Linked DNA regions of Homo sapiens: region 2 is linked to region 1. Evidence: fine-mapped expression QTL. A gene starts in region 1. The other region holds a variant in brackets. All regions are shown on one strand. Distances are between the middles of the regions.

Region 1 (4,406 bases):
CTATAATTCCTGCACTTTGGGAGGCCAAGGCAGGAGGATCACTTGCGGCCAGGAGTTCAGGACCAGCATGGTTAACAGAGGCTAAGGCAGGAGGATTACTTGAGCCCAAGAGTTTGAGGCTGCAGTGAGCTGTAATCATGCCACTGCACTCCAGGGTGACAGAGCAAGACCCTGTACCTAAATAATAATAATAATTTCCACTTCATTTTTCAATATTCAAATATTTTTATATAATTCTGCATTGTTCTGTATGTAGATCCTAATTTTAAAATTTTACACCATCATAAATGAACAAAGGTAGGAAGGAGTTTGGCTTCAATAGCTTACAGTAAAAGGAGTAAAGGAGTTCAGCCTCAAAACGATATTGTTGACCTGTTATGTTATGAAAAATAATCCAGTGTTTATACTTAACGGATGCCATCCCTTATTATTTACTATTTTCTTAGTCTAACTAAACAATCTTTATTAAAATAAGCAATGATATTTGACATGGGCCTAAGAAATATATAGTTAGCTAACAATATTGTCAGTTAGAGGGATTTCTTTTCTAAATTAAGTACAGATTTCTTCACCAAACTCCAGGATAACAGAAAAGAGGACATAAAATTTGGACATAGTTTCTGGATAAATAAATGTAAATTTAAATATAAATTATGTAACAGGAAACAAACGAAATTAAAGAAAATAAATTTTTCAAGAAAAGTAAATTTATGGATGTTAATTCTGTAACATTGTCAGGGCAAAGTTTTTTGTTTTTATTTTAATTTAAGGGTTTTATGTTTGTTTTTTACTTGTTGCAACCTCAAATGACCAAATGGTATGATGCACACTGAGATACTCAATAAATGTGCAGTGATTCTTAGCCTTTTTTCCTAGAACTTTAATATTAACATGGAAAATTCTGAAATGGACAACAAAAAGATAACACTTTGTGTATGGGGAAGAATATCATGCAGTTGATGACGGTACATTAAAATTCACACAAAAGGACATTTTGACTAGCATTCAGAAAGAGTCCATTGATTATAAGATTATCTATGAGGTTTTGGACCGGGCACTACACTACCGAATTATGGCTAACTTTGGTTTGTGATCTAGACCAAGTCACCCAATCTATCTTGGATTTTAGTTTTCTGGTTTATGAAATTAAGGAGTTAAGCTAAATGACTTGGGTTTCTTTTCGTGTATCATAATCAAAATGCTGTAACTTCTCTAGTGAATTCATAGAACACTGACTCTTACAAGTATGTCATGAAATACTTTATGCTGTGAGCAGGTATACATGTATAATATATGTATAGCTATGAACAAATAAATTTTAAATAAATGCACAACGAATTCTACAAAATGGGCTCCAACATTAACAAATGATCTGAGTTAGTCTTTCTCACAGCCGACCATAAACTATAAAACATTTTTATAAACACTATCAGCAATAAAAACGAAGTAAAATCTAGCCAAAAAATTCAATGTTCTCCAAAGTCATGTTAATCAAATCAGGTGATATATTAATGAAGTACATATGACTAAAAGGAAAAATATATGTCATTCCTGTGGTAAGAGGAAGCTGAATGTCACTAGAAATTTTTACAAGCTTTAGGAGAGGAAGAGTTCCGTTTAGGAAAATAATCATTTCAGATGATCTGAAGAAGGGTATTGGATGGAACCTATCCAATAGGTTCATCACAAAAGAGGACCTGAGAGACAAGAATGAATGGTTTCTGACTGGTGGAGAAATTTGAGGATAATCTCCCTTGCTTGAAAAGCGGTGATTAAGATTGGCACTTGCTTACAGGAGTGAAAAACAGGTAAGGGGTGCGCGCGTCTTAACACACACAAGAGGAAATACAGAGAAAAGGAAGACACAAACATGAAATGAGAATTAAATGAAATAGAATCACACTGCTGATAGAAGGGTTAAAAATCTAAAATACAACAAGAAGGGCAGGTGTTAAGCGATAAAGGGGGGCAGAACAAGTCTTTTATCCGGCCATTTAATTGGTCACCTTAAGAAAGAATCCTATCTTCCCACCGCAGCTGAGAAGACACTTCTAAGAGGTACAGCTAAAAGGTGGAGGACTGATAGACAACTTAGAGGTTGGTTTCGGGAACGATAAAACAAGTAACGGGCTGCCCGGCCTGCGCCGCGGAGTCCCGAGGAGCCTGCGCTGTGCTCCTCTCGCGGTGTCTCGTCATCTCCGGGAAGACTCGGCGCCTGGGTCCGCGCTCTCTGGGTAAGCTTTCCGGGAAGCTTTCCCGGGAGCTCGCTGGTCCTGGCCCCAGAAGCCTGCGGACCCGCCCAGGGAGGATAAGCAGCTGAAAGACCGCGCGGTGCCGCTCCGAGGCCCCGGGACGTGGGCCCATGGTCGGCCTGGCGCCACCTTTCCGGGGGAAGCCACGCGCACCAGGCATCGCACGCGGCTCTGCACCCGCGCCGCCGGACCTGAAACCCGGCGGAGGGCACACGGGGCTGCCGCTGCGGGCCCCGGACCAACCCATGCTTACTCCGGAGCCTGTACCGGCGCCGACGGGTCGGACCTCCCTGCGCGGTGTCGCCCAGCGGGTTCGTGCGAAAGGCGGGGCCGACTACACGCGGTGCCGCGCCCTGAGACCGTTTATCTGCAGTCAACGCAGCCTCCCGGCTCAGCCTGGGAAGATGCGCGAATCGGGAACCCCAGAGCGCGGTGGCTAGACCGGGCTCCGCCGCCTCCCCCACAGCCCCTTTCCTAATCGTTCAGACGGAGCCTGGTCGACTTCGCCGGAGACTGCCAGGTGAGAGGCCCCAGAGACACTAAGGGTAAAAATAAACCCAGCGCCAGCGGCGGGTACCCTGTAGGCCTGCTGGACCGGAGACGCGAGCGAGGGGCCCAGCCTTTTCTGTTTGTACACCCGGTGACGGGCGCGTGTCTGTTTACTGTTGTAAGGTGTTGGCGTGGGTTTTCTTGCTTGCTTTTATTTTAGTTCTCAGATTAACCAGAGGGGGTGTTGCCTTTGTGGACTGGGTTAGCATCCTCGAGGTGCTAAGAATCATCGTATGCTATTGACTGAAGAATATAACCTTAAGACAGCAGTAGCTGCTGTAAGAGATAAAGTAAAACATCTCAGTAACTAAACATAGTTCAGGCTTATTTCTCGTTCATGTCAAGTCCATTCACGTGTTCAGCTGTTGGCCTTCTACTCAATTATTCAGGAACCCAAACTCCTTTTATATTATGGCTTTGCTATCCCCTAAGACCTTGGAGTCCTTAGTTTCCAGGCAACGGACAGAAAAAGAAAAGCTACTAGAGGATTGCATGAGGATTGTTTCTTATGGGTGAGGACTGGAAATCACATACTATTTATGTCCACATGCCATTGACCAGACTTCAGTCACATGCCACACTGACCTGCAAGGGAGACTGGAAATGTACTATGGACCCAGGCAGAAGAGTAAACGATTTTGGTAAACACATATCAGTCTCTGACCATCCCTTAAAGGGCAGACTGCATCTTAGTCATCTTTGTTACTCTTGTGCCTATCACACCAGAGAAACTTGTTAAGGCTTTGTGAGGCCGAGGTGGGCATATCACCTGAGGTCAGGAGTTCGAGACCAGCCTAGCCAACATGGTAAAACCCCATCTCTACTAAAAATATAAAAATTAGCTGGGCATGGTGGTGCACGCCCGTAATTCCAGCTATTCCGGAGGCTGAGGCTGAAGAATCGCTTGAACCCAGGAGGCACAGGTTGCAGTGAGCCAAGATTGTGCCACTGCACTCCAGCCTAGGTGACAGAGCAAGACTCCATCTCAGAAAAGAAAAAAAAGGAAATGAAACTTGTTAAGGGATGGGGTTGTTATGTGTCTAAAGTTGAAACTTAACCATATTTCATTGTGATTGCTTAGGAATCATTTATCATCCTTTATCATCCTGTAACTAGATTACAAGATCTGAATATAGGAACTATTTAAGACCGTTCACTTCTGAATCCTCAGCTCAAGGACTGGGACGTAACAAGAGCTTAATAGCTCTTGTTTGTTGAATGAATGAATGAATCATCAGAGAGGAAAACGAGGGAGACAGTTTGTCAATGTTGGAGTTAGGAAATACTGAGAAGGTGACATTTGAGTTAGATTTTGAATTTCTTCAAGTAGAAAAAGCAGAAATGAAACTCCAGGCAGCAATAGTAGTGATATTTTATTGTTGTTGTTTTGTTTCATGAGTGGAAATTTGGAAAACAACCAAACGTTTATAAGTCCAACTTTTCTTCATTCAGTATTCAAATATTACAATTTAACTTCAGGGTAGAGGAGGGGAAATACATAATCTTACAATCCAAATAATTTCTGTTGACTAAAAGAATGGCAGTGAAAACCTTGGCACTAATTTTTAACTTTATAAAATGTTATTTTCTGGACATTTTTGAGAA
Region 2 (4,406 bases), 290 kb after region 1:
CCCAGTTAACCACCGTCATTTACTAACCTTCAAGCTATTTCTCCTGAGCTCCCATATAGCTTCTATTCATTATCCACATGACAAGCTAAAGGGCGTCTTTTAAAATGTCTAAAACTGGACATATGTCTATAAAGACATACACATATACATATACTATTACCCCATGCTCAGTAAATGTCAACATTAAATTGCAATGGCCTAAAACCTAGGCACCATCTTTGACTTTTCACACTCCACCTTCAATCAGACTTAACAGCAGCCTTTAGAATCTGCCCATTTATCATGTTGACTGTTAGCACTATGATCTAAAGCTATATCATTTCTTATTTGGATTATTGGAGTAGCCTCCTGAGTGATCTCCCCACGTTGCAGCAATCTGTCTGTCCCACACACAACCCCTTTAAACCTTATCAGATGGCATGGCTTTCCTCCAAACCTAATGGTTTCCCATCTCATTCGGAGTAAAAACACAAGGTATTAAAAGTAATCTACAAGGCTGTAGATAACTTTCTTCCCTACCTTTGCCTCAGCTTAATCCCCAATTCCTTGCTTGTCTCACCACCATTCCAACTCTCTCAGCTCAGTCACATGGGACTGCTGAGACTTGCAAAGATGTGTGAAGATGTTTACTCTTGTTCTTACCTTTGCCTAGGATGATCTTACCCCACATACCATACAGCTTCCTTTTCCCTAACTAGGTCTCTATTCAAATACCTTATCAGAGTGGTTTTTCTTGACTATTCTATAAATACACCAACACAGCATCACCTCTATAGAGTACATCATGGCATATTCAGTATTATCTATCTTATAGGTAATAATTGTCTCACCCTCAGCGCCACCCCAGTTCTATGAGGACAGATTTTTTTTCTCTTATTTATCAATGACGAGATGACTACTTGCAACATTTTAGGTGATCAAATATTTAACACAAATGACTGGGCCAAATGGTAGTCTGTCAAAGGTACATGTACTTACTCGTCATTTGTATATCTTCTTAGGGAAAATGTTTAATCTTTTGCTTGCTTCATTTCTAACTCCAAAAGAACAAAGAAAACTAATATACTATTAAAAATTTGTTAATCAGACCTTCTTTATTGTAAGTAAAATAATGCAGTTCAGATTCTGTCAGCCTGGATGATTACCCTGATAAATCCTTTGAAAAAGCAACCACTTGCTGGGGGAAAACTTTTTTTTTTTTTTTCGATGTGTCAATGTTCTATCAAGAAAGGAAGGAGTACTCTCACCAAAACCAAACTGAAACCAAGAACCCAGAAGAAAACAGAACATACCCAGAACCAGCTTGCATTGCATTTTGAAAACACTTGAAGTACCTACCCCAAGTGAACTTTTTTCATTTTTTCTACAAGACAGGGTCTTGCTGTATCACCCAGGCTGGAGTGCAGTGATACACCCCTCGACCTCCTGGACTCAAGCAATCCTCCCACCTCAGCCTCCTGAGTAGTTGGGGCTACTCGCCATGTTGCCCAGACTGTTCTTGAACTCCTGGGCTCAAGACCATTCGCCACGGCCTCCCAAAGTGCTGGGGTTACAGGCGTGAACCATCATGCCCAGCTGACCTTTAATTTTCATGACTCTGGCAAAGCCCAGGATGCACCCAAAAGTGGTGTCAAATACGAGAAACCCATTCCTAGTACAACTAGGACTCTACCTATCTTGAAACTTGGTGCTCTGTGACAGGAGAATATTGCGAGAATTTGTAATAACAGTTTGGGCTTTGTGAAGATTTGCAGGCTTAGGTGGTCCCAGGAAATTCAAGCAGAGGATTTAATTTTTAGAGTGATTCCAAATTAGTAAAACAACCAGCTACTGGCAGAAGCAAACACTGTAGGAATTGCATAATAGCTCACATTTTAAAACCAGCAAGAAAAAGTACAAGGTAATGTAGCACCATGAGTTGCCAACCAATTTGCAAGAATCAAAACATTAAATATCAATATTTTAAAAATATTAGTCAAATTGTAAAGGAAGACTAAATAAGTGACATCTTGTATATGGAAAATCCTAAATCATAAAAACCACTTAGCGCTCATAGAATTAGGCAAATTTGCAGGATACAAGATTGGCACAGAGAAATCAGTTGTATTTCTGTAAATAATTATTAATTCTAAGCAATCCATAAATGATGTTAAGAAAGTTCCATATACAATAGCATCAAAAAGAATAGGGGCCCAGTGCAGTGGCTCACACCTATAATCCCAGCACTTTCGGAGGTCGAGGCGTGCAGATCACGAGGTCAGCAGTTTGAGACCAGCCTGGCCAACTTGGTGAAACCCCATCTCCACTAAAAATACAAAAAAAATAAAATAGCTGGGTGTGGTGACGTGCACCTGTAGTCCCAGCTACTCGGGAGGCTGAGCCAGGAGAATTGCTTAAACCTGGGAGGCAGAGGTTGCAGTCAGCCGACATCATGCCACTGCACTCCAGCCTGGGTGACAGAGTGAGACTCTATTTCAAAAAAAGAAAA[AATTAAT/T]AAGGGAAATGCAAAAACATGTACACTGAAAACTATCAAACTTCTGAAAGAGAAGTCCTGAATAAATGAAAAGACATCCTGTGTTCATGGATTTGAAGATTTAATATGCTGAAATGACAGTGATTCTCAAAGCAATCTACACATTCAATGCAACCCCTATCAAAATCCCAATGACTGTTTTGCAGAAATGATAAAGTGTAAAAATTCATACGGAATTGCAAAGGACTGCAAGGAGCTAAACAATCTTTAAAAAGAATGAAAGTAAGGAACTCATACTTCCCTATTTCAAAAGTTAATACAAAGCTACAGTAATCAAAATAGCATACACAGGAACACATAGACTCATGGAATAGAATTGAGAGGCCAGAAATTGTCATACATTTACGGTCAGTTGATGTTTGACAAAGATGACAAGACCATTCAATGGGAAACAATAGTCTCTTTAACAATATGGTGTAGAGACAACCAGATATCTACATGCAAAAGAATGAATTTGGACCCCTACCTCACATCTTATGCAAAAATTAAAATGGATCAAAGTCACAAATGTAAGAGCTACTAAAACCATAAAACTCTTAGAAGAAAATGAGAGTGTATCTTTGTGTTCTTAGATTTGGCAATACTTAGAGATGACACCAAAAGCACAAACAACCAAAGGAAAAAGATAAATTGGACTTCATTAAGATTATAAACGTGTGTCAAAAGACATTATAAAAATGAAAGGATAACCTACAGAATGGACACAAATTTTCAAATCATCTATGATTAGGCTCTAGTATTCAGAATAAAGAATTTTTAAAACTCAACAAGAAGATGACCCTATTTAAAAACAGGCAAAAGATTTAAACATTTTCCCAAATAAGATAAACAGATGGCCAGTAAGTAAATGAAAAGATGTTCAACATACTAGTTATTAGAGAAATGCAAGTCCAAACCACAATGATGTATCACTTTTTACCCCATAGAATAGCTGTAAAATTTTAAAATAGAAAATGTGCTGGTGAGGATTTTGTGAAACTGGAAACCTGGTACAATGCTGGTGGGAATGTAAGATGGTGCAGCTTCTGTGGAAAGCAGTTTGGCAGTTCCCCAAAAAGTTGAACATAGAATTATTGTATGACTCAGCAATTTCATTCCTGGTTACGTACCCAAAACAACTGAAAACAGGTATTCAAACAAATACTTGTAAATGAATGTTCATAGCAGCACTCACTATTCACAATAGCCAAAAGATGGAAACAATGAAACAAATTGTGGTATTTCCGTACGATGGTATATTATTCAGCCACATGAAAGATTGTAGTATTGATGCATGCTATAATGTGGATGGGCCTTAAAAACATTTTGCTAAAAGAAAGGAGCAAAACATAAAAGGTCACATATTGTATAATTTCATTTATATGAATATCCAGAATAGTTCTATAGAGACAGAAAGCAGATTCAGCTACTAGGAAGATAGGGAAATGGGGAATGACTGCTTGATGGGTATGTAGTCTCTTGTGGGTGGTGAAAATGTCTTGGAACTAGAAGTTATGGCTATACAACATTGTGAACACATGAAATTACACTGAATTGTGCATTTTACAATAGTTAATATGTGAATTTCACCTTAAAATATCAGTGACAAAAGATAGTAATAACCAACATTTATGTAATACTTTTAAGTGTCAAGCACTTTTCTAAATTCTTCAGACACGCACGTGCGCGCGCACACACACACACACACACACAGATATTTTATTTATTTTTTGAGACGGAGTTTCGCTGCTGTTGCCCAGGCTGGAGTGCAATGGTATGATCTCGGCTCACTGCAACCTCTGCCTCCCAGGTTCAAGCGATTCTCCTGCCTCAGCCTCCCAAGTAGCTGGGATTACAGGTGCTTGCCACCACGCCTGGCTAATTTTTTGTATTT

Direction of the effects. Alleles are on the strand shown, and positions count from the first base shown. SD is a standard deviation of normalised expression in the study named.
As copies of T replace AATTAAT in region 2, the expression in pancreas of the gene that starts at base 2,195 in region 1 goes down (large effect, 0.77 SD a copy in GTEx).

The links. PIP is the estimated chance that this variant, and not a neighbour inherited with it, causes the effect. A credible set is the group of variants that fine-mapping cannot tell apart.
Region 2: its variant is the best candidate, but not a certain one, in a credible set for the expression of SLC9B2 in pancreas (GTEx, PIP 0.53).

The regions. Positions count from the first base shown.
Region 1 is chr4:103,074,550-103,078,955 of GRCh38, reverse strand. It overlaps SLC9B2 (solute carrier family 9 member B2), which reads left to right and starts at 2,195. Exons shown (of 12, transcript NM_178833.7): 1 at 2,195-2,772. BDH2 (3-hydroxybutyrate dehydrogenase 2) reads left to right here. Exons shown (of 10, transcript NM_020139.4): 10 at 1-1,364. RefSeq lists an enhancer at 2,196-2,315 and a silencer at 2,426-2,535.
Region 2 is chr4:102,788,738-102,793,143 of GRCh38, reverse strand. All of the region lies in intron 4 of LOC102723704 (a long non-coding RNA gene), which reads right to left. Among named protein-coding and RNA genes, the nearest start is that of MANBA, 30 kb to the right of the region's middle. The variant AATTAAT/T (reference allele first, on the strand shown) is at 2,489.